Homo sapiens: one gene and its partner. The protein of the gene in region 2 purifies or fractionates together with the protein of the main gene of each other region. This does not show direct contact. Each region holds a gene or a part of one and is shown on either strand. Other genes may lie near its edges.

Region 1 (3,500 bases), on a different chromosome or scaffold from region 2:
TTTTCCTTTAATCTGTTATTGACTTTCAATAAACTAGACATAATTTAAAGTACACAATTGGATAAGCTTGACACATGCATGCAACCAAGGACTCCAATCACTGCAGTCCAGATCGTGGCTATAACCATCAGCCCCAAACTTTCCCCATGCCCCTTAGTTATCCGTTGCCCTCTGCCATCCCCAGGCAACTACTGATGCGCTATCAGTATGGATTCATGTGTGTTTTTGGGAATTTTATATGAAAGGAATCATATGGCATTGTTTTTTCCTGGCTTTGTCCATGTTCCACTCAATAGTTTATCCAGGCTGTTTTCTGAGCAATCCTCTGTCCTGGGCCTCTCCGTGGTTTTCATAGACAGGAATCCCTCTCTCCTTAGCTTTGGCCTTTCCATCTGGAGCAGTTGCCCCTGGACCCAGCTAAGCCCACACCCATCATCTGTTCCGTGGGGAGGAGTGGGGTGACTCCCAGGTTTCTGGCTGGGGCTGCTGGGGGGGTGTGACATGTTCACTGGAGGAGGGGGTGCAGGGAGAAGAGGGCAAGTAGTCCTGCAAGCCCACCCCCTGCCCATCTTTCACAGCTTACCTCCTGACCCAGAGGCTGCCACAGCTGCAGGGGCCCTAAGGAACCAGTTGATAGGCTTGGGGCTCCTGGTTCTCCATAGAGCTGGCCTCATTCCCCTGGAGCAGTACCCTGGGGCTGTCAGCTAGAGGCAACATACTATACTCTGGGCCACTCACCCATGCACGCTGCGGACAAACTTCTCCAGCTGCCTCATGCAGGACCTGGCTTCAAAGTGTTTCACACGCGGCTCCCCATATGCTCCAATGTCGATGTAGAGCTCTGCCTCATTTCCTTTGGGGTGCACTAGGCCTGGCTGGCTGGGCAGGATGAACGGACACAGCCAGATGGGGTAGACCTGGGTAGACCAGGGAGGTGGGTATTGGTGCTTTTTCTCCAACAGGTGACAGGCTCATGGCTGGCCCGCTCATACCCACCCAAATGAAGGCTTTGCAGCATTCTCAAGACCCCCTCAGGTGCTCTCAGCTTCACTGCCCCGCCCCCCAGCCCTGGCTGAGAACACCCTGACTCCACCACCTTGGAGGACACAATCGGAGCAGGTCATGGGAGTGCTCGATGCCAGACCCTATGACTCCTCTCCCAGGGGGGCCATCACTGAGTGGGTTGAGGCCTCAGCAGACATAGGGACAAGGACCTCATCTTAAAGTTGGGAAAACACCCAGAGGGCAGTGTGCCCAAGGTCGGTCACACGGTTCAGGGGAGGAGACCATGGATTCCAAGGGAATGCACCTGGTGCGCCCTCCCTGCCCTGCCCCACTCACGTGGATGTCGTTTTGGAAGGTGTGCAGGGCCTGCTGCAGGCACTTCATGGGCACCAGCATGTCCTGCACCACGTGGTGCTGCTCGTACAGCTTGCGCAGGGTCTCACCCTGGGTCAGCTTCAGGAGGGAGATCTTGGGAGGCACCATCCAGCCAAAGAGGTAGCGGAAGATGGGGTTGTTGCCAAAGGGGATAATGTCCTGGAAAACAAAGATTAGGGTTGGAGAGAAAAAAACCAACAAGGGTTGAATGTCTCCAAGTGCAAGGGGCCAGGGGCCAGGTCCCATTCTGTGCTTGACAGAAGCACGCCTGAGTCCAATTCCCCTCTTTGGAGGGGGTGTGATGGGACCTAGGACTTTACCAGTCCAATCTAGGTTTGCTTCTCAGCTCTGGCATTCGCCAGTAGTGATGACCCCGGGCTAGTTACTTAACTTCTTTGAGCTCAGTTTCCTTATCTGTAAAATGGGCCTTGTGAGGATAATGAGATATTAATACCAAGTGGAAGGCACTCAACCCCATGCCTGGAGTGCAATAATGAGCTAGCTATCATTCCTGATCTAGCTGTTGAGATCTGGCTGGAATAGAGCTGGCATTCCATAAATGTTTGAGAAACGAATGCTGTTGAATGAGCATAGTGATTCTTAGAGAATTTAAGCAGTCTCCCTAGGGGCACACAGCCAGAGACAGCGCTCATGGGGTGGGTGCAGTCTGGCTCAGGTTCGACAAGGAGCCCACTGGTTTGCAGCATCCCTTGCTCACAGCCTGACCACCCGCCTGGCTCCCCCAATTCGGTCTCCCTGGAAACCCTCCTGCGCAGAAGCTGTTCTCTTCCACGCCTCAGACTGCCACGAGGCGGGAGCTTCCTCACTCAGCACTGCTGCCTCCTGACGATGGCCCCCTCTTCCCTCCAGCTCTGCCCACCTCCAACAGAGAAGACTTTGGCCCCTGGGTCACAATCCTCCTCCCTGCTTGAGTCCTACCATGTTCCTGAGGGTCCCCAGTGTCCACTGATGCCCGATTCTCACAGCTCTGGGAGCCCTTGAAGCCAAGGCTGCTCCTCCATTCATTAAACAGTTCTGGCCAGGCACGGTGGCTCATGCCTGTAATCCCAGCACTTTGGGAGGCCGAGGCAGATGGATCATGAGGTCAGGAGATCGAGACTATCCTGGCTAACACGGTGAAACCCCGTTTCTACTAAAAATACAAAAAATTAGCCGGGCATGGTGGCGGGCGCCTGTAGTCCCAGCTACTCAGGAGGCTGAGGCAGGAGAATGGCGTGAACCCAGGAGGCGGAGCTTGCAGTGAGCCGAGATTGTGCCACTGCACTCCAGTGTGGGCGACAGAGTGAGACTCCGTCTCCAAAAAAAAAAAAAAAACAGTTCCAAGGGGCCTCCGAGGTCAGGAACCAGGTTCTATGCTGGGTGCTGGGGAACCAAGATAACTGAGACATGGTCTCTGTCCTTAAGACACCCACAACCGCAGGTGTGGAAGACACAGGCCACTGGATGAGTGTGGGAAGAGTGGGGACAAACAGAGGCTGGGGCAGCTCATGAAAGGGTCCACATCAGACTAGGGGGCACGGTGACTCCCCAAAGCAGCCATGTGTGTAAGCACTGAAGGCTGAGTGACCCTTTCCCTCACTCCTCTGGAGCTGCCGGACCACTCCCATGAAGTCAGGGACCTGCCTGTTTTCTTCTGTTAGATCCTGCGCCTTTGCCAATGTCTGGCATGCAACAGGATCTCAATAAATAGCCTGGCTTTTATTGTTTCCTTGGTTACCTTTGGAAGACCTACACATGCCCACAGCAGAAATCCCCATAGTACAAAAGTTAAGCCTCCCTGCGCATTCCTGACCCTGTTTCCCTCCCAGCAATGACCTGACCTGGCTCCCCACCCACCCTCAACTCTCCTCCCCCTCCCTAATGGCAAGCATTGGTAAGAATGATTTGCCTACCCTTTGGGGGACATCTGATACGGAGAAGCAGAGGAGCTTTGAAAAAACAGAAAGCAAAAAAACCTCATAAATGGTGGCATCTTAGCACCACTGGCTCATCACTGTATCCTGTATCAATACAGAGGGCACTACTGCCTTCGGTTGTGGGTGTCTAATGTGTGCTGCAGGGGTCCACAAATTCGGCCCACCCTCTGGTTGTGTGTTCCT
Region 2 (5,404 bases):
TAGCCTCCCAGAGTGCTGGGATTACAGGCATGAGCCACCATGCCAGGCCTATAAATGGAATTTAACAACAATGGAGAAACGTTGAAATGTTTGGAGTATTTATCTTTAATATACATAGTATTAAAAGTCAAAAGTTTCCTGTTTTACTTGACTATAAAAAAGCTATGACAATAATTCATATTCCATCCTTCATGAGATACTTAAATTAGTTTCTTTAAAGCTGGAAATTGGCAAGGTTAGGGAAGAAAGCCTTATTATGCCTTACAGAGAGTCTTGCCCTGTGGAAAAAAGATGTAATACTTCCCCGGTGTACTACCATTACAGAGTCCTATTATCTACAGCAGGGGTGTCCAATCTTTTGGCTTACCTGAGCCACACTGGAAGAAGGACTGTCTTGGGCCACACATAAAATACACTAATGATATTTTAACGATATGTTTTAACAATAGCTGATGAGCTTAAAAAAATCACAAAAAAATCTCATAATTTTTTAAGAAAGTTTATGAATTTGTGTTGGGCCACATTCAAAGCCATCCTGGGCTGCATGTGTGGCCTGCAACCTGTGGGTTGGACAAACTTGATCTACAAGGAACCCTAAATCCTTCAGAGAAATAATTATCATGAAAACCCAACTCCGTTCTCTTAGCACGGAAACACTCAAATTTGGACAAGCCTGTAGAAAACAATGTATCAAGTCCTCAAATACTGCAAGAAAACAGTTTAAACAAAAAATCTGTAATCACTTATGACCCAAATTTACTTAAGACTTAAACCTCCTCATACTGGAATGAGTTTGGGATTCCTCTTTAGATCCTACTAATACGGCAAAAGATAGGAAAAGGAACTGAGCACAAAGTTTCTCTTTTTCTCCCTTGTTATATCCACAGAATACTGAATAAATGTTCAATAACTAACGTTATTTTAGACTCCTGCTGTCACCAAAAGGAGGATGGAAAATCACTAACTAAATGCTTACGTTAGTTTTATTTCATCTGATGGTCGAAGTAGTTCACTGGATATTCCTGGTTTACTTAGTGCTGAAAACACTTGTCCTCGTTCAATCCAAGTATCATCATCAGACTTTTCTAGTCCCTTACACATTACATAATTCAAAATATGTGTCAGTAATTGAAGAAGCTCCTCCTCACATCTCTATGGAAAATATAAAGTAATTTTAAATAACTAGAGGGTGTAGTTGTTCAAAGCACATCATAAGAACCATTACATATACTCATTGTAATCATTTAACATATTTTTAAAGTCCTTAATGAACCTGGAACTTTACTAGGCCCTAGAGACATAAGATGAGTAAGACATTAGCTTTGCTCTCAAAAAACTCACAATCTAGTGACTTCCAGGTTTCTAAACCTTAGATCATGAAACTTAGAACATGAATACAATATGAAATTGTTAACAACTGCTCACATATTTCTAAGGATTAGAAGTATATATCAGACATGAAAATAAAAACAACATTTGGAAAAATAAGCAATTTTACCTCTTGGCTTTCAAGTAAAGAGAAGTCATCACTAAAGCCCATATCATTTGTGATGCTGCTTTCTCTGTCAGAGTGCACAGAAAACGATTTAGTAGACTCTACTGGGGATGGTGTGCTAGGCAGACTGTCTGGCACTTGACTTCCACTATCACTCATTTCACATGAGTCAATTCCACTGAGGTCTAAACTCAAATGTGAAGGGTTACTATGCCAGAATTCCTCTTGATTCTCTGATTTGAAAGACAATTCTCCCACAGAGCTATCTTCTGGAAATAATGGTGTGTTTGAGTCTAAAGAGTGTCTATCCTCCAAACTCCACTGATCCGAAGACACATTAGCTGAGGCAAAAGAGGTGATTTTTTCCTCATCTGTTTTTTCATCAGAGTTCTTCTTGGTATCTTCAGTTGACATATTTTTATCATTGTCTTTCATTAAAACAGCTCTACTGTGCTTATGAAGAGTATTTCCGTTTTCAAATTTTGCTTTTAAAAAAAGCCTAACTAAGGTGTCTTGCCAACCCACTTGCTGTGATATTTGATGTGCTGCATCTGGCTGGAACTGCAAAATTTGCAAAACCTGTAAAAAGATTTAGAATACAAAATTCTTCAAAAAGTACATAGTACTTTATATCAAAAATAATATTTTCAGTTATTTTAATGATAAGGTAATTTAATGAGAAACTATAGAAGAATATACTTTCAAAAGATTATATTCTTAATTAGATTATAAACTATTTGGAAGACTGGCACTGTGTTTCCAACTAATCTCCATATTACTCATTGTACAGAGTAAGAGTACACTAAAATATCTGCTGGAAGATAAAAAAGAAAAATTAAAATGAATAGGATGATGGTATATGTTAAATAATAGAGTAATATCCTCTCAACTAAATACTTTCCATGAGCCCCCTACATTTGTTCAGGAAATATTATTGCACACCTACTATGTGCTAGGCACAGTTTTAGGCACTAGCATTAGGGGAGTGAATAGGACACATAAGACATTTTGATAGAAACTGAGTATACCAAGGATGTTTTTCTGTCTCGTTTTTTTCAGGGAAAGTTAAGTTTTTTTTTTTTTTTTGAGACAGGGTCTTGCTCTGTCGCACCAGTGCAGTGGTGCGATCTTGACTCACTACAACCTCCGGCTCCTAGGTTCATGCAACTCTCCTGCCTCAGCCTCCCGAGTAGCTGGGACTACAGGCACACAGCACCACTCCTGGCTAATTTTTGTATTTTTAGTACAGACAGGGTTTCACCATGTTGGCCAGGCTGGTCTCGAACTCCTGACCTCCTGTGATCTGCCTGCCTCGGCTTCCCAAAGTGCTGGGATTACAGGCATGAGCCATGGTTGCTTTTGCAAAAACTTTTTTGTTCAGTATGTCTACACTAAAGTCTACATTGCTTAGTAAGTCTATATTATACAAACAGAACAAAAACTAAACTTTAATTCCAGAAAATGAATTTCAGCAAGATGGATGCCACTGCTTAGCTAGAATAGTAAACAGTGACATGAGAATACGTATGATCTCTACTATCCAATTGATTAAAATTTTTAGATAAAAACAAGTTCTTAAAAAGCTTTAGACATTCAGTTAAGATCTTTTAAGACAATTTTATCACAAAGTCAATAAACTTCTATGTAGATGAAAAGAACTCTAGCTTCCAGGGTTTTGAGTATCTCTCTTAACAGAAGTTTTAGCTCTGACAATTTTCAGAGCAAGAGATGAACAATGTTGGTAAGGACTTCAATATTACTAGTACTAATACATGTTGATACAGAAGGCAAGGAGTCACAATGACGTGAAGATTCTTTCTTTATTAATACAATATCAATCAGTGAGCAACTGTTACTTTATAGGTGCAGAATAACAATTTTTTTCTTCCAGATTAAGCTTTACTTGGCAAAGAAACTTTTCATGCTGACTTTAAAGTTTCCATAAAATATGACTTATTTTATATCTATTTTATACATAAATAATAGATAAAACCAAGCTGCACTGAGAGCTGTTTCTAATTATACGTGAAAAGGAAAGGATCAATTTATATGACCTGCTCCAAATACTCAGAGCTAAGTACATAGGGAAATAATCACTGTCACACACACTGTTTGTATAAATGTAAACTGGTACAGTTATTTTGAAGGACAATGTGGAAAAATCCATCAAAATGTAAAACGTTAATACCCTTTGAAACAGCAATTCTATTTCATGGAGTATGTCCTACAGATGTATTACCACAAATTGGAAAACATAAAAAGACATTCATAACAGCAGTTTATAACATGGAAAAGCAGGAAACAACCTAAATGTCTATCAATAAGGAACCAGATAATACTTTATTAAATAGCCATACAATGAAACACTATGCATTTCCATTAAAGAGAAAAGGAAATTATACATATATATTATACAACAAATATATATATTTTTCTTTTCTGTCAGTTAAACAAATAAATTATATATGTGTGTGTATATATGTGTATATATATATAAACTCTATATATAGAGATCTCTTATTCTCACACACACATATATATATATATATATCAAGAACTGTGACAAAATCATGAGGTAAAATAAAAAAAAGAAAAGCAAGGAAGCAAATTAAATAGGTCAATGGTTACTAGTGGAGGACAGAGAAAGTTATGATCTGAAAGGGGAAGACAGGATAACTATCTCTTGACTTAGTTAAAGGTTAACTGTGTACTAAAGACAAATCATTGTTGGAATACTCCTAAACAAATTATAGAAAATTATTTCCAGAAAGTTTCAAAAGATTCAGAAACTCTATAATATGGTATATTAATTAGAAATGGTCACAATCATTGAAGGTTCTTAATAAGAAAATTATTCTCTGGTAATACATTTTTGACTCTGGAAAGAACATATTTGCAGGAGACCACGAAGAACTAAGAAAACATTCACATGCTAATTTCTTATGATAACATGAAGTTAATTTACTTCAAAAAGAAAATTGTTTACTTATAAAATTACGTCATTTATAAAATAAATGAAAACTTGTATCTGCTGCAAAATAATGCAAAGTTATTTATAGCATGATGGTGATGCTGCTATCATTAAAATATATCTTAAGAGTTTACTGACCTTTCTGCAGATGGCCACTCTAACATTTATATGTGCTCTGTGAGATATATATACCACAGATAGTAGATCTTTGAAATTAATAACAGGATCTATGGTAGGAAAAACAAAAAGTTAAAATTAAATACCAGAGATAACCAAAGAAAGAACTGTGGATAATACTTGTATAAAATGCTGAAATAATTATTTCATTTTAAAATATGAATTATAGGTATGTTCAAATTTTAAAGAAAAAATAGGTTTAGAATGTTTGACATCCTCCTGAGTCAACCCTAAATAATTGTTCCTTTTGATTGCTTGAACGTACTGTCCATACTGCATGGCTCTTATATTATTATTTATCTTTTTATATACATGTCTTATCAACAAGATTGTAAACTAATCAAGACAAAGAATCTTATATCCCCAAACTCCCAGCATCTGGCATAAATTCTACTGTCTGTCATTAAGTACTGAAAAAAATTATTTAAAAAAATTAGAAGCAGGGCATGGTGAAACATGCCTGTAGTTCCAGCTACTTGGAAGGCTGAGGTAGGAGGATCCCTTGCATCCAGTATGAGGCTACAGTGAGCTATGATCACACCTGTCACTAGCCACTGCACACCAACCTGGTCAATACAGCAAGACTCTGTTTCTAAAAAGAAAAACCAAAAAACCAGAACAAAACAAACAAAAGAAACAACAAAGAATATCTGAAATTAGTTTTCATTTGCCTTTAAAAATTTAAGCTCCTTAAGAAAAAACAATCTTTTGCACATATTTTCTGTAGTGTCCTTTTCTTGTTCCGTGGACTCACTTATTAA

The links. Proteins that work in one complex are often made in the same cells at the same time.
Region 1: the proteins of NBEAL1 (region 2) and DHCR24 purify together in Homo sapiens (co-immunoprecipitation; one large-scale study listed by IntAct). This does not show direct contact.

What each region holds. Positions count from the first base shown.
Region 1 is NC_000001.11:54,852,696-54,856,195, forward strand, and holds part of DHCR24 (delta(24)-sterol reductase precursor), read right to left. Parts: intron 1,540-3,500; coding exon 1,342-1,539; intron 918-1,341; coding exon 739-917; intron 1-738. UniProt on the Homo sapiens protein: Catalyzes the reduction of the delta-24 double bond of sterol intermediates during cholesterol biosynthesis.
Region 2 is NC_000002.12:203,132,347-203,137,750, reverse strand, and holds part of NBEAL1 (neurobeachin-like protein 1), read right to left. Parts: intron 4,694-5,404; coding exon 4,605-4,693; intron 2,075-4,604; coding exon 1,499-2,074; intron 1,153-1,498; coding exon 977-1,152; intron 1-976.